Linked DNA regions of Homo sapiens. The protein of the gene in region 3 interacts with the protein of the main gene of each other region in a pairwise test. Each region holds a gene or a part of one and is shown on either strand. Other genes may lie near its edges. The genes, in order: PIGF, NKG7, TMEM130 and OLFM4.

The links.
Region 1: the proteins of TMEM130 (region 3) and PIGF interact in binary tests that used the Homo sapiens proteins (3 or more experiments, as listed by UniProt).
Region 2: the proteins of TMEM130 (region 3) and NKG7 interact in binary tests that used the Homo sapiens proteins (3 or more experiments, as listed by UniProt).
Region 4: the proteins of TMEM130 (region 3) and OLFM4 interact in binary tests that used the Homo sapiens proteins (3 or more experiments, as listed by UniProt).

Annotation. Positions count from the first base shown.
Region 1 is NC_000002.12:46,607,038-46,614,067, reverse strand, and holds part of PIGF (GPI ethanolamine phosphate transferase, stabilizing subunit), read left to right. Parts: intron 1-282; coding exon 283-374; intron 375-1,723; coding exon 1,724-1,840; intron 1,841-7,030.
Region 2 is NC_000019.10:51,371,108-51,377,597, reverse strand, and holds NKG7 (protein NKG7), read left to right. Parts: upstream 1-4,943; 5' UTR 4,944-5,062; coding exon 5,063-5,219; exon of another isoform or gene 5,220-5,290; coding exon 5,291-5,437; coding exon of another isoform or gene 5,438-5,523; coding exon 5,524-5,658; intron 5,659-5,762; coding exon 5,763-5,821; 3' UTR 5,822-5,978; downstream 5,979-6,490.
Region 3 is NC_000007.14:98,846,003-98,853,032, reverse strand, and holds the end of TMEM130 (transmembrane protein 130 isoform b precursor), read left to right. Parts: intron 1-1,409; coding exon 1,410-1,612; intron 1,613-4,337; coding exon 4,338-4,450; intron 4,451-4,788; coding exon of another isoform or gene 4,789-4,824; coding exon 4,825-4,977; 3' UTR 4,978-6,543; downstream 6,544-7,030.
Region 4 is NC_000013.11:53,045,807-53,052,581, forward strand, and holds the end of OLFM4 (olfactomedin-4 precursor), read left to right. Parts: intron 1-4,162; coding exon 4,163-4,965; 3' UTR 4,966-6,251; downstream 6,252-6,775. UniProt on the Homo sapiens protein: May promote proliferation of pancreatic cancer cells by favoring the transition from the S to G2/M phase. In myeloid leukemic cell lines, inhibits cell growth and induces cell differentiation and apoptosis.

The DNA.
Region 1 (7,030 bases), on a different chromosome or scaffold from region 3:
ATAGCTCTATATTACCATGGAAACAGAACCTCTTTTCGACTCATGTAGGTCGGATGGGTAGAATATGGGCGGAAGGTGGTATTTGCCTTTTAGGCTTTTTTAGTCTGTATCGAAGGCTGTGTATGTGACGGTACAGGACATGTGATCTGATTTGAGTATACCCAAGAACATTTGAACTGTTTTACACATTATGGGAACAAGTTGTGTTTGTAGATGAAATGGAAGAATTTATTGTCCTTTAAGCATTATCTTGAATCTTCAGGTTATTCATTTCTCTTTTAGGTAACTGGATTTTTGAAATGCTGTATCTACTTTCTTATGTCTTGTTTCTCCTTTCATGTAATTTTTGTTCTGTATGGAGCACCACTGATAGAGTAAGTTTGAAATTTTTACCCTAAATTTATATTTTAAAACATTCATTTACCAAACTGTGTGCTAATTCTTAGCAACTAGAGAAAAACCATGATGTGCATCATTAATAGATCAAGTAAGGACACCAACATCATTAGCAGTGTTATTCTTTTTTAAAAAAAACAGCAGAATAACTTAATTTATTAAATACTCTTGTTACCTAGCCTTCTAGTATCCAATTGCATGTTGAGAGAAGGGAGAGTAGAGAAACTATACTATACCAATAAGTATTTGGCCCTTAGAACCTCTGAAAGAACTTACTATGATTATATGTGTAAGTTATAATTAGCATATCAGTTCTTATAAATGTGATTCTAAAGTACTTGAATGGAGTTTTTCTTAACAAAAGTCAATAGATTCCTGTATTCAAATACTGAATAAGCTGGTGTTTATAGTTTAAAGGTAAAATTTAACACTTTTTCTGAACTGACAAATTTCAAATTCTTAGAAACAAAATTCATGAATGTTTCTTACATAATGTTTATCATAGTTTGAGAAGCTTCAGTTTAGCAGTGATTAATGATCATGGTGAAATGAGTGATGAGATACATATACATATACACACACATATATTTGTGTTGCTAAGTATACCATTTTATATATATATATATATTTATACATAGTTTTACGTACACACACTAAACTGACAGGTTATTCTTTTCTAGATGGGAGAGAACAAGACCTTTGTAATGGAAAATGGTGGTTCCTGTCTAATCCATTTTAAAGCAGAATGAATGTGTCTGGCACAGTGGTTCTCAAAATGTGGTTTTCAAACCAGCAGCATCAGCATTTTATCAAAATGCAAATACTCAAGCTTCAGTCAGAAACTCTAGGGGTAGAGCCCCCACCAATCTTTAGTTTATCCAGCTCTCCAGGTGTTTCCAATATATGTTAACCACTAGTTGTAGAGAACCACTACAACTAGTATTCAATAGTGGTTCAATAGTGGTTCAATAGTGTATTGAACCACTAGTTGTAGAGAAAGTTCCAGAGAGACTATTGAGCAGAAAGCTAACTATCTAGAAATGGATTTTGTTTGTTTGTTTGTGTTTGCAGTGAAAGTCTCAGCATGGATCCTAGGGTCTTTAACACTTCTGAAATCTATCATTAAAGCGAAATACTTGCTAGATTGTTTTTTAAAGCTACATGTTGGTGGTAAAATTATTTATAGTCATCATTTTGGTGGCATTCATGTTACCTTTCAAAGTAAAGCATAGGAAGATATTTCACATTTTATTTATATAATAAAGATTATGTATGTGTATGTTTACCTTTAACACTTTTTTAAAAAGTAATCTTTTTTTTTTTCTAGGTTGGCATTGGAAACATTTTTATTTGCAGTTATTTTGTCTACTTTTACTACTGTGCCTTGCTTATGTTTGTTAGGACCAAACCTCAAAGCATGGCTAAGAGTGTTCAGTAGAAATGGGTAAGTTTTAATTTTATATTATAATGATATTGAAATTAAAAAATAATTAATGAAGTATTTTTCTATTCATGGCAGTTTGCTGATTATTCTGAGTGCTTCTCATTGCTGATGGTGCTCAGAGATGCCTTAAGGGGTCACTGCAATTAGGGACTGGGGACAGGGCAGGCAGAACTACAAGCCCCTCCCTCCACGTTAGCAAGATCAGCTCTCCTTTTTTCTGTATGGTAGAATTCCACCTAGCCTTTTGTTTGTTTAAAAAAAAAAAGAAGAAGAAGAAATAAAAAAAAATTCTACTATTAAAAGAAAGCCTTGAAAACCATGGTTCTGGGATAATTTGGCACTGTGATAAGACTGCTGTAAATAAAATTGCTTACATACATTTTATAAGGTAGAAGTGGGGTCCACAATCTAAAAATGTGTTGTGTAACAATGATAATTTCTTGTTTAGCCTTTTTTGTGATAAGATACCAGAGCTCAAGTTTTATGAGATTTCATTTCCTTGGTGGCCGTATATATTTTCAGCATGGCTAAGTTAAAATTTTAGCTTCTTGAAAGTCATTTAAATGATATGCACCAGAAATAGTGGAGATCTAGCTAAGAAAGCCAGAAGGTTATTTGATTCTTTCCTATTTATCACCCAGCAGCAAGAACTTCTTGAGCACTTAGTCTGTGCTCTGTGTTATTGTGTTATGCTAAGCTGTGTGTGGTTTCTGAAGTATTAGGAGGAATCTTTTTTTTTTTTTTTGAGATGGAACCTCGCTCTGTCGCCAGGCTGGAGTGCAGTGGCATGATTTCGGCTCACTGCAACCTCCATCTCCCAGGTTCAAGTGATTCTCCTGCCTCAGCCTCCCAAGTAGCTGGGACTACAGGTGCATGCCACCATGCCCAGCTAATTTTTCTATTTTTAGTAGAGACAGGGTTTCACCACACTGGCCAGGATGGTCTTGATCTCGACCTCATGATCCGCCCGCCTCGCCTCCCAAAGTGCTGGGATTACAGGTATGAGCCACCACACCCGGCCTTATTAGGAGGATTCTTTTGCTGAGGAGCTTATCTGTTCAAGGGACAAAAATGAGCAAATAACATCAGATTACAAATGTGTAAATCCAGCAATAAGTGGTGTAGGAACTCAAAGGGACAGAGCATCAGTAAAGAATGGAGGGGGAGATGGGAATGATCTATGATGGACTTAAGTCAAGAGTATATGATTTGGTGAGACCAAGAAGGAAGAGAAAGGCACCTCGTGCAAGGAGAATGGATAAAAGCATTGAAACTGAAATGAACAGGGTATTTTTGTGTGATTTGAAAGGTAACAGCCCAATGAGAGCAAAAGATGCATGCTGAGTAGCTTGGCTTCATAAATTACCGACTTATTCCCTTTGAAATCAGTACTGTTTGGGACGAGTGTGGTGGCTCACGCCTGTAATCTCAGCACTTTGGGAGGCCAAGGCGGGTGGATCACCTGAGGTCAGGAGTTCAAGACCAGCCTGGCCAACATGGTGAAACCCCATCTCTACTAAAAATACAAAAATTAGCTGGGTGTGGTGGCGGGTGCCTGTAGTCCCAGCTACTTGGGAAGCTGAGGCAGGAGAATTGCTTGAACCCAGGAGGCGGAGGTTGCAGTGAGCCGAGATCGCACCACTGGACTCCAGCCTGGGCAACATAGTGAGAATCTGTCTCAAAAAAAAAAAAAAAAAAAAAGGAATCAGTACTGTTTTCCCTTGGAACCGTCTTCTAATATTCATAAAGTCTCTAGAAAACAGAAGTGTAACAACTGAAAGCATTTTCTACATTATTACCATAATATCCCAAATGGTATTAATTGCTTTTAGCCTTTTAGTTTGAAATTTTTAAATAGTGAAATTGGATTGAAATCTTATTACTTTGGATTAGTGATTTCTCCAGTTTTCAAGTCTATGTCTAATAATGGGTGTATTTGGGGGAAATACTGTCATGTGATTTTACAATTAGTTCTGCTATAATGTGGCCTGTGTGTTCCTAAAAATCACTACGCTGTACAAAATGGGCAGTAAAAACCACAGAGCTTATGGGAAAGATGGGGTTAGGTCATAACACTAAAACAATTCATCAGTGACATGTAGAGAGAAGATGGGAACTTAATAAAAATGGTAGCACAGTTTTACACGTTTAAAATGGTTACAAAATACAGGCATACCTCATTTTATTGTTCCTCACTTTATTGTACTTCTCAGATATTGCTCAGATCAGATACTGTTTTTTATAAATTGAAGGTTTGTGGCAACCCTGCATCAAGCAAATGTATCAGCGCCGTTTTTCCAACAGCATGTGTTCTCTTCATTGGAAACTCTCACAATATTTCAAGCTTTTTCATTATTATTATATCTATTATGGTGATCTGTGGTCTTTGCTGTTACTTTTTGTAATTGTTTTGGGGCACCATGGCTCATACCCATATAAGATGACGATCTTAATAAATGTTGTACATCTTCTGACTGCTTCACCTACCAACGTGTTCTCTCTGTCTCTCTCCCTTCCCCACCCTCCCTCTCTCTCCCGTCCCTGTTCCCTGAGATACAAAAATATCAAATTTAGGCCAGTTAATAACCATACTATGGTCTCTTAAGTGTTCAAGTGAAAGGAAAATTTTACTTGTCTCTCACTTTAAATCAAAAGCTAGAAGTGATTAAGCTTAATGAAAAAGTTAAGTTGTCAAGAACTGAGACAGACTAAAAGTGAAGCCCCTTGTGCCAAATAGCCAAGTTGTGAATGCAAAGGAAAAGTTCTTAAAGGAAATTTAGTCTACTCTAGTAAACACATGAGTGACAAGAAAGTGGAACAGCCTTACTGCTGATGGGGAGAAAGTTTTATGGTCTGGATGAAAGATCAAACCAGGTACAACATTCTAAGCCAAATCCTAATCCAGAGTAAGCCTCTCACTCTCTTCATTTCTGTGAAGGCTGAGAGAGGTGAGAAAGTTACAGAAGAAAAGTTTGAAACTAGCAGTGGTTGATTCATGAGGCTTAAGGAAAGAGGCCATCGCCATCACATAAAAGTGCAAGGTGAAGCAACAAGTGCTGATGTAGAAGCTGGAGCAAGTTATCCAGAAGATCTAGCTAAGATTGTTGGTGAAGGTGGCTAAATAACAGATTTTTAATGTAGACAAAACAGCCTTCTATTGAAAGAAGATGCCATCTAGGACTTTTAAAGTTAGAGAGGAGAAGTCAGTGGCCACCTTCAATGCTTGACAGGCTGACTCTCTTGTTAGGGGCCAGTGCAGCCAGAGACTTTAGTTGAAGTCAATGCTAATTTACCATTTTGCAAATCCTAGGGCCCTTAAGAATTATGCTAAATCTACTTTGCCTATATACTGTCAATGGAACAACGAAGTCTGGATGACAGCACATCTGTTTATAACATGGTTTACTGAATATTTTAAGCTCACTTTTGAGACCTACTGCTCAGAAAAAAAAAATCCTTTCAAAATATTGCTGCTCATTGACAATGTGCCTAGTCACCCAAGAGCTCTGTTGGAGATGTACAAGAATATTAATGTTTTTTTCATGCCTACAACACAAGATCCATTCTGTAGCCCACGGATCAAGGAGTAATTTTGATTTTCAAGTCTTATTACTTAAGAAACACATTTTGTAAGGCTATAGCTGCCATAGATAGTGATTCCTCTGATGGATTTGGAAAAAGTAAATTGAAAACCTTCTGGAAAGGACCATTCTAGATGGATGCCATTGAGGACATTTGTGATTCAAGGGAGGAGATAAAAATATCAACATTGACGAGAAGCTGATTCCATTCCTCATGAATGATGTTGAGAGGTTCAGGACTTCAGTGGAGGAAACCACTGCAGATGTGGTGGAAATAGCCAGAGAACTAGAATTAGAACAGGAGCCTGAAGATGTGACTGAATTGCTGCAACATTATGATAAAACTGGAACAGATGAGGAATTACTTCTGGATGAGAAAGAAAATGGTCTCCTGAGATGGAATCTACTGGTGAAGATGCCATGAATATTGTTGAAATGACAACAAAGGATTTAGGATATTGCATAAACTTAGTTAATAAAGCAAAGCAATGGCAGGGTTTGAGAGGGTTGACTCCAATTTTGAAAGAAGGTCTACTCTGGGTAAAAGGCTGTCAAACAGCATGGCACGCTACAGATCAATCTTTTCTGGAAGGAAGAGTCAATTGATGCAACCAACTTCATGGTTAAAATTTCACTTTAAGAAATTGCCGGCTGGGCGCAGTGGGTCGTGCCTGTAATCCCAGCACTTTGGGAGGCTGAGACAGGCAGATCACTTGAGGTCAGGAGTTTGAGACCAGCCTGGCCAACATGGTGAAACTCTGTCTCTACTAAAAATACAAGAAAAATTAGCTGGGCGTGCTGGTAGGCCCCTGTAATCCCAGCTACTTGGGAGGCTGAGGCACAAGAATCACTTGAACCCAGGAGGCAGAGGTTGCAGCGAGCCGAGATTGTGCCACTGCACTCCAGCCTGGGCGATAGAGCGAGACTCAGTCTTAAAAAAAAAAAAGAAAAGAAATTTCCACAGCCTCCCCAACCACCACCCTGATCAGTCAGCAGCCGTCAACATCAAGGCCACATCTTCCACCAGCAAAAAGATTACAACTTGCTGAAGGCTCAGATAATTATTAACATTTCTTAGTAATAAAGTATTTTTAAATCATGTGCATTTAAAAAACTAATGCTATTGCCCACTTAATAGACTATGATACAGTAGAAATATAACTTTTATATGCACTGGGAAACCAGAAAATACATATGACTCACTTTATTGTACAATTTGCTTTATTCTGGTGGTCTGGAACCAAATCTGCAGTATCTAAAAGGTATGCCTGCACCCAAATATTACAATAAACATAGCACTTTTCCTTGGAAAAGGTTTCCTTGGTAAAGGTTTGCTTCTGGAAATAGACATGAGAAGGGTTGCCTATTGTGAGTTATTGCGAAGTGATGAGATGGTTGTTGGAAATCTGAGGGAAAATTAACACCAGATGTGCGTATGTGTGGCTCATGACACGTAGTAAACTGAGGTAGCTGGGAGGTGGTTATTTTTTAAAACAGTATTGAGATATAATTCACACACCGTACACATCATCTATTTAAAATATACAATTCAATGACTTTTTGCAACCACCAATCTACTTACTGTCTCTATAGATTTGCCTATCCTGGA
Region 2 (6,490 bases), on a different chromosome or scaffold from region 3:
ACTGACTTACATAAAGTAAGTGCTGTTTATTGACTTACATAAAGTATTATTTATTGAAATGTACTCTAATGATACTGAGATTTAATATCTTTTTATCATTATAATAGCCATTAAATATTATGACTAGAGTGCACCTCAATAGAAATGATGATGCCTTCCATAATAACTGTTTACCATTAGCATTCATTTCTTTAATAGAACGTAGGTTAATTGAGGATTAGTCTTTTTAAATTTTATTTTATTTTATTTTTTTTGAGATGGAGTCTCACTCTGTCACCCAGGCTGGAGTACGGTGGTGCGATCTTGGCTCACTGCAACTTCTGACTCCCGGGTTCAAGCGATTCTCCTGCCTCAGCCTCCCGAGTAGCTGGAATTACAGGTGCACGCCACCACTCCCAGCTAATTTTTTGGGGTCTTCCGTGGCAGATGGGGGCTACTGAGGAGCTTTCAAGCCCGGGAGAGGTTGGAAGGGGCTGGAGAAAGTTGGAAGAGACCTGGGTGATTCAAAAAAACTGACAGTGCTTAGACAAGACTGACAGAGACCTAAGAGAACCAAGTGGCCAAGCAGGCGACGTGAGCTGTGAACCCCGAAAATCTGAGACAGGTCTCAGTTAATTTAGAAAGTTTATTTTGCCATGTAGTCACAGCTACTCAGGAGGCTGAGGCAGGAGAATGGCGTGAACCCGGGAGGCGGAGCTTGCAGTGAGCCGAGATCGTGCCACTGCACTCCAGCCTGGGCAACAGAGCGAGATTCCATCTCAAAAAAAAGAACAATAGAAAGTTTATTTTGCCAAAGTTGAGGACATGCGCCCGTGACACAGCCTCAGGATGTCCTGACGACATGTGCCCAAGGTGGTCGGGGCACAGCTTGGTTCTATACATTTTAGGGAGACATGACATATCAATCAATAGATGTAAGAAGTACATTGGTGCATCCAGGAAGGTGGGGACAACTCAAAGCAGGGAGGGGGATTCCACGTTACAGGTAGGTGAGAGACAAATTGTTGCATTCTTTGAGTTTCTTTTTTCCTAGATGGAGTCTAACTCTGTTGCCCAGGCTAGAGTGCAGTGGCACAATCTCGGCTTACTGCAACCTCCACCTCCTGGGTTCAAGTGATTCTCCTACCTCAGTCTCCTGAGTCTGAGACTACAGGCGTGCACCACCATGCCCGGCTAATTTTTGTATTTTTAGTAGAGATGGGGTTTCACCATGTTGGCCAGGCTGGTTTTGAACTCATAACCTCAGGTGATCCACCTGCTTAGGCCTCCTAAAGTGCTGGGATTACAGGCATGGCCTCTTTTGAGTTTCTGATAAGCCTTTCCAAAGGAGGCAATCAGATATGCATCGATCTCAGTGAGCAGAGGGATGACTTTGAATAGAATGAGAGGCAGGTTTGCCCTGAGCTGTTCCCAGCCTGACTTTCCCCTTTAGCTCAGTAATTTTGGGGCCCCAAGATTTTCCTTTCACAGAGCTCTCAGGAAAAGCTTCAGAAGGAGGCCTGGGGTTTTCCTCTGGCAACCACAGACCACATCTGGTTGAGAAAGCTGCTGGAGATCCTGCGAGCAATTCTGTCTTCAAGGCCCCAGCTGCCTTGCCTTTGTGCTCTTAAGAGATGGTCTTGGCTGGCTGGGTGCGGTCACTCACGCCTGTAATTCCAGCACTTTGGGAGGCTGAAGCAGGTGGATCACCTGAGGTCAGGAGTTCGAGACCAGCCTGACCAACGTGGAGAAACCCCGTCTCTACTAAAAATAGAAAGTCAGCCGGGCATGGTGGCGCATGCCTGTAATCCTAGTTACTTAGGAGGCTGAGGCAGGAGGATCTCTTGAACCTGGGAGGCAGAGGTTGCTGTGAGCCCCGATCATGCCATTGCACTCCAGCCTGAGCAACAAAAGTGAAACTGCGTCTCAAAAAAAAAAAAAAAAAAAAAAAAAAAAGATGACCTTCACTCACCCGCTCTTACTGGCTTGTGGTGTCTGTCAGAGGGCCTGGGCCTGTGATCAGCCTGTGATACCTACATGTGCAGAGACTCACTGGAGCCAGGTACAGGTCACCTCTGTGTATGCATGCATGCATGGGTGTGATGGTGGTGGTAGTGGGACCCACTTGGGGAGATGAGAAATGAGGTTACAGGCTTGGACCTGGAGGTGAAAGGAGAATGAAAATGGTCGGAGTTAGGTATGAATTATAGAGGTTGCAGAGAAGAATGAAAAGACAGTGGCTGGGCGCAGTGGCTCACTCCTGTAATCTCAGCACTGTGGGAGGCTGAGGCAGGTGGATCACCTGAGGTCAGGAGTTCAAGACCAGCCTGGCCAACATGGCAAAACCCCATTTCTACTAAAAATACAAAAAAAAAAAAAAAATTAGCCTGGTGTGGTGGCGTACAACCATAACCCCAGCTACTCAGGAGGCTGAGGCACAGGAATCACTTAAACCCAGGAGGCGGAGGTTGCAGTGAGCCAAGATCATGCCACTGTACTCCAGCCTGGGTGACAGAGTGAGACTCCATCTCAAAAAAAAAAAAAGGGTTGGGATGGGAATGAGAATAGGGTCAAGTTTCAGGAAGAGGATGGGGTTGGGTTTGGAGTAGGGGCTGGGGTTAATAATGGAGAGGGGTTTGGTTTGGAGATAGGGTGGGGTTTCAGAATGAGAATGGAGTTAGATTTGAGGGTGGGAAGGGTATAAGGGTTGGAACTGGGAATAAGGATGATGTTGAGTTTGGGAATTAGAATGACGTTAGGTTTGGGGATGGGGGCGAATCGGGGGATGGGGTTGAGTGTGTAGTTGGGACTGAGAATGGAGTTCTATTTGAGGATGGGGGTTGGAGCTAGGGTGGAGATTACGAATAGGGATGGGATTGGGTATGGAGTTGTGTTCAGGAATGGGAATAGGGTTAACTTTGGGGATAGGGATGGGTTGAATTTGTGGTTGGAACTGGGCTTGATACTGAGTTTGGGGATGGAGTTGGGTTTGGGGTTAAGGATGGCTTTGGGTTTGGGAGGGGGTCAGGGTCACAGATAGATAGGCTGTGTGCTCTGACCTGCTACTCACTGCACACCATGGCAGGTTTTCCGGAGACCTGGCCTGCTCATGGCCTCTGCCACCTCTGGGAGCCTGTGCTCATAAATGTGTTCTCAGAGTGGTGCAGATCTGAGTGAAGGATGGGGGCTGCCGATCTGAGTCTCTCCAATAAAGGAGAGGAACCAGTCTTCCAGGTCATTTCCCATTCTCCACATTTGCCAGCTGTCCTGGGACTGCTGGACCAGTTCATCTCCAAGACAGAGGTCCTCTTCCAGACTACTCCCTATGTATTAGTCTATTCTCACACTGCTATAAATAACTGCCTGGCCGGGCGTGGTGGCTCACACCTGTAATCCCAACACTTTGGGAGGCCAAGGTGGGCAGATCACCTGAGGTCAGGAGTTAAAGACCAGCCTGTCCAACATGGTGAAAACCCGAAAATCTACTAAACCTGAAATCTACTAAAAATACAAAAATTAGCTGGGTGTGGTGGCGGGCACCTGTAATCCCAGCTACTTGGGAGGCTGAAGCAGGAGAACTGCTTGAACCTGGGAGGTGGAGATTGCAGTGAGCCGAGATTTTGCCACTGCCCTCCAGCCTGAGTGACAAGAGTGAGACTCTGTCTCAAACAACAACAACAACAACAACAAATGCCTGAGACTGGGTAATTTATAAAGGAAAGAGGTTTATTTGATTCACAGTTCAGCATGGCTGGGGAGGCCTCAGGAAACTTACAATCATGGTGGAAGGTGAAGGGGAAGCAAGCCACTGTCTTCACAGAGTGGCAGGAAGAAGGCCAAGCGAAGGCAGGAAGAGCCCCTTAAAAAAACACCATATCTTGTGAAAACTCACTCACTATCACAAGAACAGCATGGGGGAAGCCGGCCCCATGATTCAATTACCTCCACCTGGTCTCTACCTAGACACGTGAGGATTATGGGGACACAATTCAAGGTGCGATTTGGGTAGGGACACAAACCCTAACCATATCACCGTTTCACAGAGGTCAAGTTTTCCTGGGCCTTCTACCTGGGCTGTGGTACCGTCACCTTATACCTGCTCGTAGATGAGGTGTTGCCAGGACCTGATGGTGTGGATGGAAGAGGCTAGCGTTTGGGGGGCTGGAGAACCCTAAACCAAAATCCTTATGTCCCCCAACACCCCCTAGGCCCCCCGATCCTGGTGATAAAGGCCACCAGGCTGGAGCCCCCACCCAAGCAGGGATGCCACTGAACTCATTAATCAGATGAGGATGTGGGTATGTCTGACTCTCTGCAAACCTTTCAGAATTGTGATTCTCTGCTGTTTGCCTGCCCTTGGCATATGCTCCAAACTGGGGCCCAGGATTCTGAGCTCCTGCCCGCCTCTTCCTCCCTCAGGACCTGGAGTTCAGGCCCCCAGCTCCTTCCTCCTTAAGCCCCAGGAGTTCTAACTCCCAAGTCCCCTCCTTCAGTAGAGACCCTAGACTTGGGGACTTCCTCTCCCAGAATGGAAGACTGCATAACCCACAGGAAAGCATGACACATCCCCAGCTGTCCCCTCCAGCCACATCTGCCCTCCCCCTTAATGTACACCCTAGCCTGATTGGCTTCCTCCCACCTCAGGGCCCCCAAGCCTCTCTCTCTCACCTCTTCCAGGAAGCCCCGACTTGGTGTTGAAGGTTCCATGGGTGGGAGTTGTAGAATCTGTGACAGAGGCAAGTACTAAACCACCGCCCAAACCACTGATGATCTGACACCCTCAGTGCCCTCCCCCATCACACACTAAGCGGGGAACTGGACCCCAGGGAGGGGAGGGAGGACGTTGCCTGTGCAATCCAGGAAGGGAGGGTATGTGAAAAGCTACCGGGAACTGTGTGAAACCAAACCAGCCTCATGTGACAAAGCGCAGGACCCCTCACTGCCCCAACTGCTTGCTGTTCTCTCTTTCTTGGGCTCTAAGGACCCAGGAGTCTGGGTGCACAGCCTCCTTCTCTCTGAGATTCAAGAGTCTGATCAGCAGCCTCTTCCTCCTCCAGGACCCAGAAGCCCTGAGCTTATCCCCATGGAGCTCTGCCGGTCCCTGGCCCTGCTGGGGGGCTCCCTGGGCCTGATGTTCTGCCTGATTGCTTTGAGCACCGATTTCTGGTTTGAGGCTGTGGGTCCCACCCACTCAGCTCACTCGGGCCTCTGGCCAACAGGGCATGGGGACATCATATCAGGTAAGGGGAATGGGTGTCCTACAGAGGGGTTGCCAGCGGGGATGGGTGCTCAGTGGTCTTCTCCCGATCAGGCTACATCCACGTGACGCAGACCTTCAGCATTATGGCTGTTCTGTGGGCCCTGGTGTCCGTGAGCTTCCTGGTCCTGTCCTGCTTCCCCTCACTGTTCCCCCCAGGCCACGGCCCGCTTGTCTCAACCACCGCAGCCTTTGCTGCAGGTAAGGACTCTGGACTGGACTGGGGCATCGCGAGCCAGCGAATTCCTGCCGAGGAGCTGAGCCATCTCTCTTGTCCTTGTCCCCAGCCATCTCCATGGTGGTGGCCATGGCGGTGTACACCAGCGAGCGGTGGGACCAGCCTCCACACCCCCAGATCCAGACCTTCTTCTCCTGGTCCTTCTACCTGGGCTGGGTCTCAGCTATCCTCTTGCTCTGTACAGGTGACTATCCTGCCCACTGCCCTGGGGAGCTTTGGGAGGGTCCAGTTGGGGTCCCTGAGGACAGAGGGCAGGGGCAAGTGCTTAAACTCTTTCTGGCTCCCCAGGTGCCCTGAGCCTGGGTGCTCACTGTGGCGGTCCCCGTCCTGGCTATGAAACCTTGTGAGCAGAAGGCAAGAGCGGCAAGATGAGTTTTGAGCGTTGTATTCCAAAGGCCTCATCTGGAGCCTCGGGAAAGTCTGGTCCCACATCTGCCCGCCCTTCCAGCCCTTCCCCAGCCCCTCCTCTTGTTTCTTCATTCATTCAACAAAATTTGGCTGGAATCTGGTTATTTTGAGATTAATTCTGCCAAGACATAAGCCAACTGTCTGCCAGCTCCATGGTAGGAGCTGGGCACCAAGGGAAGGTGAGGGCCCACCAGGCCGACCAGCCTGCAGGGCGCTCCTGCCCAGTACGAGTGCCCGGCCCGTGTGGACACAGGCTCCAACCCGTGTCTATGTCTCCCCTTCTCCAGCACTTTTCTTCCTCCCTGTGTCTTTCTCCCTTTAGCTGGCTCTCTTTCCTTCTCTCTCCCTCTCTGATTTTGTCCCCCTTGCCAGAACTCAGCCCTTCCTTGCACTCAGTCAGTTCTCTTTGCACATTTCCCCATGCTGGGGACACTGGCACGGGTCAGACCCAGGCCCTGCCCAGCAGGGGCTCAGTCTGTGGGGTGGTGGGGAGGAGGCACTTACAGACCAGAAGCAGTTAATACAGGCCAGACAGCAGTCCCAGTGCAGGGAGAATGCCGGAAAAAGACTGACCATATTGTGGAGGGATGGAGACGACTTTTCTGGAG
Region 3 (7,030 bases):
GCTTGTGGAATGTGGATAACTTGGAATGCCCTTATCCTTTCTCACCCATCAAACGTTCATTTATCCATTCAGATCTGCTCAAATGCCACCTCCTCCAGGAAGCCTTCTCTGGCTACCTCATTAAGAATGCTCTCATGGTCAGGGACGGTAGCTCATGTCTGCAATCCTAGCACTTTCAGAGGCTGAGGTGGGTGGATCACTTGAGGTCAGGAGTTAAAGATTAGCCTGGCCAACATGGTGAAACCCTGGTCTCTACCAAAAAATACAAAAATTAGCCAGGCACGGTGGTGCATGCCTGTAATCCCAGCTACTTGGGAGGCTGAGGTGGAAGACTCACTTGAACCCAGGAGGCAAAGGTTGCAGTGAGCGGAGATCGCACCACTGCACTCCAGCCTGGGTGACAGAGTGAGACTCTGTCAAAAAAACCCCACAAAAACAAAAACAAAACAAACAAACAAAAAACAACTCTCTCATGCTGGTTGCAGTGGCTCATGCCTGTAATCCCAGCACTTCAGGAGGCTGGGGCAGGAGAATACTTGAGGCTAGGAGTTGGAGACCACCCTGGGCAATATAGTCCCATCGCTATTAAAAAATTAAAAAATTGGCCAGGCGCAGTGGCTCACGCCTGTAATACCAGCACTTTGGGAGGCCGAGGCGGGCGGGTCACCTGAGGTCAGGAGTTTGAGACCAGCCTAGCCAACATGGCGAAACCCTGTCTTTACTAAAAATACAAAAATTAGCCAGGCATGGTTGTGTGTGCCTGTAGTCCCAGTTACTTGGGAGGCTGAGGCTCGAACCCGGGAGGTGAAGGTTGCAGTGAGTCAAGATCGCGCCATTGCACTCCAGCCTGGGCAACAGAGTGAGACACCATCTCTAAATAAATAATTAATAAAAAATTAAATTAAATTAAATTAAAAAATTAGTTGGGCATGGTGGCTGGTGCCTGTAGCCCCAGCTACTCGGGAGGCTGAGGCAGGAAGATCGCTTGAGCTCAGGAGCTGGAGGCTGCAGTGAGCTATGATTGAGCCACTGCACTTCAGCCTGGGTAATAGAGTGAGTCCCTGTCTCGTAAAATGCAAAACACAAAAAGGGGGATGTGCTTATTATTCCCCTGGGCTTCTATGGTACACCATGTGTGCCATCAGACCGCTCATCCTGCCTCCAGTGAGCAGTCTATGCGTATCTCTGTTGGCCTTATTCACTTGGAATTCTCTTGGGGGTCCGGGACCATCTCTTTTGCACCATAGTGTCCCCTGGTCTGGAATGCATGAAGCTGAGTCCAGGACGGCTTGATGTCCTGTCCTGGAAAGGACACTGAAGTTCCTGCCCACCTGGCCTGTCTTGGACTTGGTCTGTGCTGACATGCTTTGCTGAGCCTTTTCTTAAAAACCGCCCCCATTTCCCTGCAGCCCTCCTCTGACTGTGTGCTGGCGTCTCAAGCCTGAGTGCCTCCCGCTGGAGGAAGGGGAGTGCCACCCTGTGTCCGTGGCCAGCACAGCGTACAACCTGACCCACACCTTCAGGGACCCTGGGGACTACTGCTTCAGCATCCGGGCCGAGAATATCATCAGCAAGACACATCAGTACCACAAGATCCAGGTGTGGCCCTCCAGTAAGTGACACCTCGCCTTCTGCTCCAGTGCCACATGGGCAGCACAAGCCTGTCCATCCTGCCACCACCACCAATACGCTCCTACCAGCCAGCCTTACCAAGGTCCTCAGCAACAAAGCCCGCTAGCATCAGCACCATCCATAACCCCACTGACTCCAGTGACCGCCAACATCAGCGCTGGCCAACTGCCAATACCACCACCACCAAACTCTCCAATCCCACCAGCAACCAACTCTGTCAACCCCAATATGGCACCCATCGATTCTACCAGCACCACCATCAACACCAGCACCACTAACAACTGTAACCAACTCAGCTACCACCATTACCATATGCTTTCCTGACAACTCTTCCAGGACCACCATTGCCACCACTAACGACTCTATAAGCATTCTCACCAAGTCACCTCAATGACCCCGACCCTACCCACATCTATAAGCCCATGCCACCACCTGCCCCAATGCCAGCTTTGTGGACCGAAAGCAACCATGCCAATGTCTTCTCCCACATATTTCCAAGACCACACGTCCCCAGCACAAACACTTTTGCGCCAAATGAGCCACCATGATTGCAGTGTTCCCTCCCTCATCACCATCACCCCTGCCCCAGCAGTTGCCACTGCTAAAACCAGCATCCCCAACAGTAACTCTACTCAACTCACAGTGTTGTAGTGAGTCTTGCAGGGAGAAGGCATTGCATATTGTTAATAAGGATGCCTGGGCTAGGCATGGTGGCTCCCAGGACTCTGGGAGGCTGAGGCGGGTGGACTGATTGAACCCAGGAGTCTGAGACCAGCCTGGGCAACGTGGCAAAACTCTGTCTCTACAAAAGATATAAAAATAGGACAGATGCGGTGGCTCGTGCCTGTAATTGCAGCACTTTGAGAGGCCGAGGTGGGTGGATCACTTGAGGCCAAGAGTTTGAGACCAGCCTGGCCAACATGGCAAAACCTGTCTCTACTAAAAATACCAAAAAGTTAGCTGGGTGTGGTGGTGGGAGTCTGTAATCCCAGCTACGCAGGAGGTGGAGGCATGAGAATCCCTTGAACCTGGGAGGTGGAGGTTGCAGTGAGCTGAGATTGAGCTGCTGCACTCCAGCCTGGGCCACAGAGAGGCTCTTGTCTCAAAAAATTAAAAAAAAAAAAAAATATATATATATATATATATATATGAGAGAGACAGAGAGAGAGAGAGGGATTGAGAGAGAGAGAGAGTGGCGTGTGCCTGTAGGTCTCTGCTATGCTACTCGGGAAGCTGATGTGGTAGATCACTTGAGCCCAGGAGGTTGAGGCTGCAATGAGCCAAGATCACACCACAGCACTCCAGCCTGAGCGACAGAGTGAGACCCTGTCTCCAGAAAAATAAATAAAAAATAAAAAAGAGAAAAGGATGCCCAACCTTCTTTCTTGAAATACCTTTCCAAAACTATCATCGGCCCAGCCCCTGGCTTACGATTGTGGGCTTTGCTGATGACAGCATTGGGTTCTACACTTCATTTTTATGGAGGACTCTGGGAGCCCCAGAGAAGTACTTCCTTACATAGAGTAGGATCTCAGGTCCTGAAGGCACTGTCTTTCAGATGCCCAACCTACTTCTACCTTTGATGCTACAAAAGGGGAAACTAAGGCACAGGGAGGCAACAAGACTGGATGTCAGCCTGAGCCTGAGCCAGGGTTTCAGATTCCTGGTCCTGGGGTAGGAGTTAGTTCTTCCCAGTGCTCCCAAGCTCATGCCAAACCCTGCCAGCTGCACTTGTCTTCAAGGTTGGTCCTATGGATGCACCTGAAGCTGTCACTGTCCCCTCCAGTTTCCCCAATCCCACTCTGGGCCCCTGAGAGGATGCTACACTCAATCTTGGCCCTGGCTTACTTTGTGGGCATCATCAGGTCACTTGAGCCCTGCATCTCTCAGCACCCTCTGGGGACCAAGTTCCAATCAGGAACCCCCTGAATTCTGCAGAGAAGACAGCAGTACAGGTAATCAATGACAACTTTTCTTTGGAAACAGACCCTCATGGCAGAGGGTGAGGGAAAAGGGAGAGGGAACCCACACTTCCTGATCACCTACCACATGCCACACACATCAACACCCCTCTTCTTGTTGCATCTCCTTAGCAGTCTTGCAGGTCAGCATTAGCATGAGGTAGCCTATTCAGAGCTAGGATTTGAACCCAGGACTGTTCAACTTCAGACACTGGACTCTTTCTACCATACCATTTCATAGCAACAGGTTTATTGGGTGAGCCTGCAGTTGCCAGAGCGTGAGAAGCTGAAGCAGGGGACACAGTGCTGATTGGGTGACCTCACAACATGGCTGCCCTTCCCAAAAGTGTGTCACCCGAGAGAGCAAAGAGGGAGCTGTGGTGTCTCTTATGGCTTAGACTCAGGAGTCATGCACTGTCACTCCTTTCATCTGCTGTACACTAGGAGCTGGTCGCTGAGTCCAGCCCTCACTCAAGGTGTGAGGAATTTAGCTGCCCCTCTTGGAAGTTGCTACCAAGTAACTTGTGGATGTATGCTGAAAGCCCCCTACCCAGACCCCAGTTTATTTTTTGTGAAGTCCTGGATTTACCTATTGGGGTTGCCCAGTTGGGATGCATGTACATGAGGGTAAAAAAAATCACTGGTGGGGCTTGACCATTCCCTCCTTTGTTGTGCTTGCTTCCTGAGAACCAGCACTGTAGTACCAGCTACCCAGTCCTGTAATGTTACTTCTTTCATTCCCAGGAATCCAGCCGGCTGTCTTTGCTTTCCCATGTGCTACACTTATCACTGTGATGTTGGCCTTCATCATGTACATGACCCTGCGGAATGCCACTCAGCAAAAGGACATGGTGGAGGTGGGTACTCAGTGGGGTGGGGGCTGGACTACTGGGCCTTGCCTAGAGAGGATGTTTAGAGAGGGTATGGGGGCCAGGCCAGGATGCCTGGAGGGGGTCTTGATATTACAGCGAGGCTCCGGGACTTGGGGTGATGTGCCCAAGAGGCATCTGTAGACCAGGAAAAATTGCTAAGTTGGTGTCCCATCTGATTTATCTCCTATATCCATCTCTTGCATCTGTGTGGTGCCAGAAAGGTGTTTCTGTGCACTCTGCCACCAGGCAGCTGAGCTCATAAGGCCACCTGATGGGGCTCCTGGTGGGTGGGTGATTGACCCGTGGGATTTTGTTCATCATAGGTGGCTGATTTTGACTTTTCCCCCATGTCTGACAAGAACCCGGAGCCACCCTCTGGGGTCAGGTGCTGCTGCCAGATGTGCTGTGGGCCTTTCTTGCTGGAGACTCCATCTGAGTACCTGGAAATTGTTCGTGAGAACCACGGGCTGCTCCCGCCCCTCTATAAGTCTGTCAAAACTTACACCGTGTGAGCACTCCCCCTCCCCACCCCATCTCAGTGTTAACTGACTGCTGACTTGGAGTTTCCAGCAGGGTGGTGTGCACCACTGACCAGGAGGGGTTCATTTGCGTGGGGCTGTTGGCCTGGATCATCCATCCATCTGTACAGTTCAGCCACTGCCACAAGCCCCTCCCTCTCTGTCACCCCTGACCCCAGCCATTCACCCATCTGTACAGTCCAGCCACTGACATAAGCCCCACTCGGTTACCACCCCCTTGACCCCCTACCTTTGAAGAGGCTTCGTGCAGGACTTTGATGCTTGGGGTGTTCCGTGTTGACTCCCAGGTGGGCCTGGCTGCCCACTGCCCATTCCTCTCATATTGGCACATCTGCTGTCCATTGGGGGTTCTCAGTTTCCTCCCCCAGACAGCCCTACCTGTGCCAGAGAGCTAGAAAGAAGGTCATAAAGGGTTAAAAATCCATAACTAAAGGTTGTACACATAGATGGGCACACTCACAGAGAGAAGTGTGCATGTACACACACCACACACACACACACACACACACACACACACACACACAGAAATATAAACACATGCGTCACATGGGCATTTCAGATGATCAGCTCTGTATCTGGTTAAGTCGGTTGCTGGGATGCACCCTGCACTAGAGCTGAAAGGAAATTTGACCTCCAAGCAGCCCTGACAGGTTCTGGGCCCGGGCCCTCCCTTTGTGCTTTGTCTCTGCAGTTCTTGCGCCCTTTATAAGGCCATCCTAGTCCCTGCTGGCTGGCAGGGGGCTGGATGGGGGGCAGGACTAATACTGAGTGATTGCAGAGTGCTTTATAAATATCACCTTATTTTATCGAAACCCATCTGTGAAACTTTCACTGAGGAAAAGGCCTTGCAGCGGTAGAAGAGGTTGAGTCAAGGCCGGGCGCGGTGGCTCACGCCTGTAATCCCAGCACTTTGGGAGGCCGAGGCGGGTGGATCACGAGATCAGGAGATCGAGACCACCCTGGCTAACACGGTGAAACCCCGTCTCTACTAAAAAAATACAAAAAGTTAGCCGGGCGTGGTGGTGGGTGCCTGTAGTCCCAGCTACTCGGGAGGCTGAGGCAGGAGAATGGTGCGAACCCGGGAGGCGGAGCTTGCAGTGAGCCCAGATGGCGCCACTGCACTCCAGCCTGAGTGACAGAGCGAGACTCTGTCTCCAAAAAAAAAAAAAGAAGAGGTTGAGTCAGCAGGGACTTGGGTTCCCTGTGTGTGAGGGGGGCATTCTTGCCTGCCAGCTGCTCCCGAGGTGGCCTTGAGAAGGAAGAAGCAGGATGACAGAGCCTGAGCAGCGGAACCAGCCTGCACCCTCCCTTCTGGCCCAGCGACCTGGGCTGTGGCTGAGACAATAATGAGGCCAGAAGTAGCCGGAGCCTGTCAGGAAGGGCAGGGGAGGACTGTGGGGTCTGGGCTCTGTCGCTGTAACCATCTGCTCCCAGGCTGTGTGCAGAAAATGGCATTTACACTATTGTGCAGCTCATTCTCATGAAATACTGCCATTGTTGCTAAATAAAGCTTGTGTGCTCTGAATATAGCCAAGCATAGACGGTGTGGCCAGAGTCTCTCTTTTGTGCATGGACGTTTTTGCCTTGCAGACAGCAACGGCAGTGCTGTGACGCAGCAGGACATCCCACTTGTCCTCTGTGGTGAAGACAACTGAAGGGAGCCAGTTCAGGTCCCTGGAGGTGGGGAGAGCTGTCCCCAGGTGACTTGGACATGCATCCCTGTCTGAGACCTCAGGGGGATTCTAGAGCCAGAGGAGGAACGTGGACCACACCTGGGGACGTGTTGGAAATGCAGACCCTTGGGCTCGACCTGATACCTGAAGCAGTGCCTGGGTAGGGGGGCAGCCACCTGTTTTCACAAGCCCTCTGCGATTCTGGTGCATATCAGGTATGAGAACCACTAGTCTCTAGCAGGCTTCTTAAACTTTGAGGTTCATGAGAATTGCTAGAGATCTTGGTAAACAAGAATTTTCATTTTGGAGGTCTGGAGTGGGGCCTGGGATTCTGCGTTTCTTTTATTTCTTTT
Region 4 (6,775 bases), on a different chromosome or scaffold from region 3:
CTCATTTCATAGAACTTTCTAATCTAAAATAATTGGCCTTCTACTCATTAACTTTTTTCCCTTAAAACTTCAGTCTGTCTCTGTTTTGCCTGTGAATCTAAATGACTGTATATAGGCCAAATGTGATCGGGTGCTCAGGGGTTGATCTCCAGTTTGCTTGGGGATGCAAGGTTCTGTGCTGGTCCATAGTGATGCTCAGTAAGTAGCTGATGATTAAATGGGGTCTGAAAGAAATGGGGTGACCTGCTAAAATCTCAAGCTTAGGGAAGAGCCACATGTTGAACAGCATATATCCAACACTTCAGAGTCAATTTAGTCTTAATCATTTTATGACTATGATTGTTTTAATTGCCTAATTCTTATAAGTCAATCATATTCTCCTCCTGGCTCAAACAAAGTTCAGTTGCCCAGTTGAGAGAGTGCATTAATAGATCCAAGACTAATTTTCCTCTGTAGGCATATAATTATTGGCTTCAAAAAAATGCTACTAACCATGATACTTTTAAAAAGCCAAGTCAGAATATTTTAAATTCTCATGATTATGGCTTCCTCAGGTATTTTCAGAGTACCATGGTGCCATCTAATGAATTGCATGATGAAGAGAGTGCCAACCAAGGCTAAACTTCTATAGAGGGTTCCTCAAATTATGTTCCATGGAGTAAATGCCAGGCTTTTTGAAAAACCAGATATGTAGCAGGGTAGAAGGCTAGTGTTTTATAAATAAGGGTAAGCTGAGTTTAGGTGACTTGATTAATCTTTCATTCCTTTATTCCACAAACATAATTTGGTGCCACTGTGTGGCTGGCCCTGTTCTGGGTACTGGGGTTACCAGCATGAGTAAAGAAACCTCCAGAAGCCACTATCTAGGAAATGAGACATCTAAACCTCCAGTTGTAACATGATGTGATTATATTGAGATATTTACCATTTACTGAGTAACATTTACATGTCTTCTCTGTATTTTTCGTAACTATTTTGCAGAGTTGGTATTATTTTTCTTCTGACATGAGGAAACTGAGGCTCAGAAGGTTAAGTAACTTGCTCAAGGATACACAACTACTGTTGGAATCAGGCTTTGAATTAGAATCTGTCTAGTAGTATTTTCCATACTAGGCTGCCTTCCATAGCTGCTCTAACAGAGAGGTGCACCTGTGATTTCTGGAGTGAAAAGAAAATTCCAACAACTCACCTATCTGCTTAACACCAAATTATTTTTGCTTCCTTGGTAGTGGAGTAGGTAAAAGGGTACTGTTGCTCCTGACAGTTCTGTGCTGTGTGTTCTCTTCCACCAGAAAATGCAAAATGATTCAATGGTCTTTCAGAATTCTTGGATCATGATTGGGCAATGGGCTGTTGCCCAAGTGTCAGGGTGAAATTGGGATGGAAACTGGGTATGAAGTATGGAATGAAGTATGTCTAAGACCTTGACATGAAGGAAGGGGCTGGCAAGGAGCATGAGATAAGGGAGGGTGGTGAGAAGCTCAGTGAAGATGGGATGGGGGGATGGGGACTCTGAGGAACAGTGGGCACTGGACTGGCTGTCAGTTTCAGTATCGTGTCCAAGATGGTTTGCTGCCAGGAGTCGAGGAAGCCCGCCATAGCATTTTTCCTGGTCTGACATTGTTGTGGCCACATTTGTAGCATTGGCAGCAATGTTGAGTTCTCATCCCCATTTCCACTTCCTTTCTACCACAGCCGGGGCCCTAAAAATAGCCCTTTATCCTTACCCATAGAGGATAAAAGGAGGATAACAAATGAACAGGAAAGTGTTTAGGAATGTTTGGGAGGTGAGAAAAACAAAGTTTCATACATTTTAATATTTACACTGGGCAATTTGAATTTTCTGGTCAACTTATGAAATGATGAGCCACTATTACTATTAGTAGTAGTAACAATAGTAATAGTACTAATACTATTATACTAATAATAATGCAATTAGTTTTATGATAATAGCAGTAGTAATAGTAATTTTTTGAGAAGTTTATTTTGGTTCCTTCATGTCTAAAAATTTCCACATCTGGGGACAGAATAGTTTAACCTCTTGGTAGTGCTTGAATAAGTTATATGCATCATCAATTTTCCTTAAATATTTTGTTGCTGTCGGTTTGGGATATTTTCTTTTCAGGAAGGCAAGACTCAATGAAGCAAACAATTATTGTCTTCCAACCTGAAAGAAAAAAAAGTGACTTTCCTCAGAGTGAAATGTAGTTAAATAAATAAGTTCTCAGGAAGATACTTTAGCTAGAAAATCCAGTTTGTAGCATATGGAAACTTGAACAGTTTTTGTTATCATTAAACTGAACACACCGCTAACTTTATTTTAATAATTCATGCATTGTTTCATAAACAAAAGCAAACAAGCATTCATCTGAGAGATCACTTTTAGTAGAAGAAATAATAATTTATAATTTTATTTATTATTTCTTCAGTGGAGAATAGTCTCTTGGCTGAAAACACGTTGCTTTTTTATTTATGAAATGGCACATGCATTATTAAAATAAACCTGTGACTGTGTTCTGCTTAATGATATGCAAAATTATTTGAGGTTGGATACAGAGTGGTTTCATTTCTCTACCTGTTGTATGGTTGGCTGGCTTTCTCACCAACTGTGGATTTATGAGAGCATTTAAGGAGCATATATTTAATTCTGGGACCAAAAAGCCCCAGCCGATTGGAAAAATAAAAACAGAATTTCTAGTAATGGTTTCACCTTTGAGCAGTCCTTGGGTGAGGAGGATGGGGAGGGAAAGCATTTAGCAAGGAAAGGAATGGGTCTTTCCATATTGGACACAGCAGAGACCCAGAGACAAAGGCTTTGCTCCCCCTTCCCCGCCTCCATGCTAATCTCAGGCAATTCTTTGGAGCTCTGCTTTTGGCTCCAGCTCACCTCATGTTCCTCAATGGCTCTCTGAGTCCCTGCAAGTATTTCAGGCCAAATCCAACAATTCAGGTTCTGCTCCTTTCCTGTCTCACCTGCTCTGCTCTGAGCAGCAGGACGAGGGAAAATGACCTCAAATATACTTGAAGTTGGGTTTTCTTTGTTATCCAATAAACCATCTCATGAGTTTTTTTGAGTGTTAAGATCCCAGAAAATGTGTGTTCAACTCTTTGGATAGTTATTATAAAAATACTGGAGGAACTTTATTTTATTTTTATAGCTCATAAACTCCTGGGATGGCAGGCATTTCAGCGGGAGTACAATGTGAAGGGTTGATCGCCCAGACTGAGTTATTTACCCAAGTGTTACAGGGAATGTAGATTCAGTGGACCAGTGAATCTTGTCCCACTTGATTGTACACATTGTGACAATGACAGTGTCTGGATGGAAAGATGAAATACTTGCATGTCATTCTATGGCACAATAGCATATGGGTTATGAACAGCAGGACTCACCATGTAACTCTGCAGCAGGACGGTCAGCAAGTGATTTATTGATGGGCTGTGCATTGGGTACGGAGCAGGCAATGTTGCCCCAAAATAACTTTATGGCTTCTCAAGGGTGAAATCCCACCATTATAGGACCATCTTTCTGGATCTATAAAATGCTATATTTAAAACATCCTCTTCTGAGAATAGCTTAAAGCAGGATTGGTACCTGGCGTGGATGTGCAATTGGGGGTCCCAAGGAAGGGGAGAGTGAGGAAGGGCATGAAGCCTTGCCTGGGAAAATCTTCTCCCTCATCACTATTCTTTCTGGGATAGATTTCTATAAATCTTGTGGATTTATAGAAATAGGGTAGGATTGTGGAATAATCTTGCTTCCTTGATTTTGCTATAAGAAAAACAAAATAAGATAATATTTGCAAAATGCTTTCTGATAGAAGGAAATATATTAAATTCACCAAGTCTCCCTTTCCTCTCTCTGGGCCTCCAAACTTTTTAAATATAGTTCTTGCTGGTTTCATTATTCCTATTTTCCAGATTGAAAGCCCACCCATGGAAACAGAATGTAGTTCTCTGTAGAGCTGACATTGGGTTTGCATTGAGACTGAATGCACTGAACTAAGAGGAGGTTTGGCTCTTCTCCATCAGAACCACTGTTGTTATTGAACCTTGACAGGAAAAATATTTATAGATTCCTTTGGTGCTTAGGATATTAAACTATTTGTATCCTGTCATTCCTTTTCTCTAAAAATGCCTTTTTATTTTCTTGTTTGTATAGGGAGCTGTGGTCATGGTGGTGTGGTGAACATCAGCAAACCGTCTGTGGTTCAGCTCAACTGGAGAGGGTTTTCTTATCTATATGGTGCTTGGGGTAGGGATTACTCTCCCCAGCATCCAAACAAAGGACTGTATTGGGTGGCGCCATTGAATACAGATGGGAGACTGTTGGAGTATTATAGACTGTACAACACACTGGATGATTTGCTATTGTATATAAATGCTCGAGAGTTGCGGATCACCTATGGCCAAGGTAGTGGTACAGCAGTTTACAACAACAACATGTACGTCAACATGTACAACACCGGGAATATTGCCAGAGTTAACCTGACCACCAACACGATTGCTGTGACTCAAACTCTCCCTAATGCTGCCTATAATAACCGCTTTTCATATGCTAATGTTGCTTGGCAAGATATTGACTTTGCTGTGGATGAGAATGGATTGTGGGTTATTTATTCAACTGAAGCCAGCACTGGTAACATGGTGATTAGTAAACTCAATGACACCACACTTCAGGTGCTAAACACTTGGTATACCAAGCAGTATAAACCATCTGCTTCTAACGCCTTCATGGTATGTGGGGTTCTGTATGCCACCCGTACTATGAACACCAGAACAGAAGAGATTTTTTACTATTATGACACAAACACAGGGAAAGAGGGCAAACTAGACATTGTAATGCATAAGATGCAGGAAAAAGTGCAGAGCATTAACTATAACCCTTTTGACCAGAAACTTTATGTCTATAACGATGGTTACCTTCTGAATTATGATCTTTCTGTCTTGCAGAAGCCCCAGTAAGCTGTTTAGGAGTTAGGGTGAAAGAGAAAATGTTTGTTGAAAAAATAGTCTTCTCCACTTACTTAGATATCTGCAGGGGTGTCTAAAAGTGTGTTCATTTTGCAGCAATGTTTAGGTGCATAGTTCTACCACACTAGAGATCTAGGACATTTGTCTTGATTTGGTGAGTTCTCTTGGGAATCATCTGCCTCTTCAGGCGCATTTTGCAATAAAGTCTGTCTAGGGTGGGATTGTCAGAGGTCTAGGGGCACTGTGGGCCTAGTGAAGCCTACTGTGAGGAGGCTTCACTAGAAGCCTTAAATTAGGAATTAAGGAACTTAAAACTCAGTATGGCGTCTAGGGATTCTTTGTACAGGAAATATTGCCCAATGACTAGTCCTCATCCATGTAGCACCACTAATTCTTCCATGCCTGGAAGAAACCTGGGGACTTAGTTAGGTAGATTAATATCTGGAGCTCCTCGAGGGACCAAATCTCCAACTTTTTTTTCCCCTCACTAGCACCTGGAATGATGCTTTGTATGTGGCAGATAAGTAAATTTGGCATGCTTATATATTCTACATCTGTAAAGTGCTGAGTTTTATGGAGAGAGGCCTTTTTATGCATTAAATTGTACATGGCAAATAAATCCCAGAAGGATCTGTAGATGAGGCACCTGCTTTTTCTTTTCTCTCATTGTCCACCTTACTAAAAGTCAGTAGAATCTTCTACCTCATAACTTCCTTCCAAAGGCAGCTCAGAAGATTAGAACCAGACTTACTAACCAATTCCACCCCCCACCAACCCCCTTCTACTGCCTACTTTAAAAAAATTAATAGTTTTCTATGGAACTGATCTAAGATTAGAAAAATTAATTTTCTTTAATTTCATTATGAACTTTTATTTACATGACTCTAAGACTATAAGAAAATCTGATGGCAGTGACAAAGTGCTAGCATTTATTGTTATCTAATAAAGACCTTGGAGCATATGTGCAACTTATGAGTGTATCAGTTGTTGCATGTAATTTTTGCCTTTGTTTAAGCCTGGAACTTGTAAGAAAATGAAAATTTAATTTTTTTTTCTAGGACGAGCTATAGAAAAGCTATTGAGAGTATCTAGTTAATCAGTGCAGTAGTTGGAAACCTTGCTGGTGTATGTGATGTGCTTCTGTGCTTTTGAATGACTTTATCATCTAGTCTTTGTCTATTTTTCCTTTGATGTTCAAGTCCTAGTCTATAGGATTGGCAGTTTAAATGCTTTACTCCCCCTTTTAAAATAAATGATTAAAATGTGCTTTGAAAAAAGTCATCTTTTGTTTTATTTAATTTTAATTTTTTTTTAAAGCTCTTAACAGGGTAGTCCATATCTTGCTATGAGGTTGGGAGAATGGCTACCTCCCAAACACTAGTGCGGGGAGATTGCACACCTAACAACAGATCACATCAATAACTTTTATAAGAGCCCAGAGTTAGGCTGGCTCTTTCATTTTTCTTTCCCTTTAAAATCCACTCTTTCTGGCAGCTTTTATTGTACATGACTGCCCTATTATCTTTTGGGATATGACCTTATGTACTTATTAATTTGCATGACTGATCTGATTATTTCCAATGCTAGACTACATTTATGTAGCTTATGTTCCTTTTCCAATTGAGCTATGAACATGGATCAGAAGCCTCTGGATCTTCCCCAGACAGGAGGACTTGGGCAGAAAGCAAAAGGACTAACTGGCTATACCAGGAAGAGAAGTACCTTTACCAAAGAGAATATGTAAGAAGACAGGTGACCTAGAGCTGGAAGGACACAGTGGACTGATGTAGTTAGTCTTACT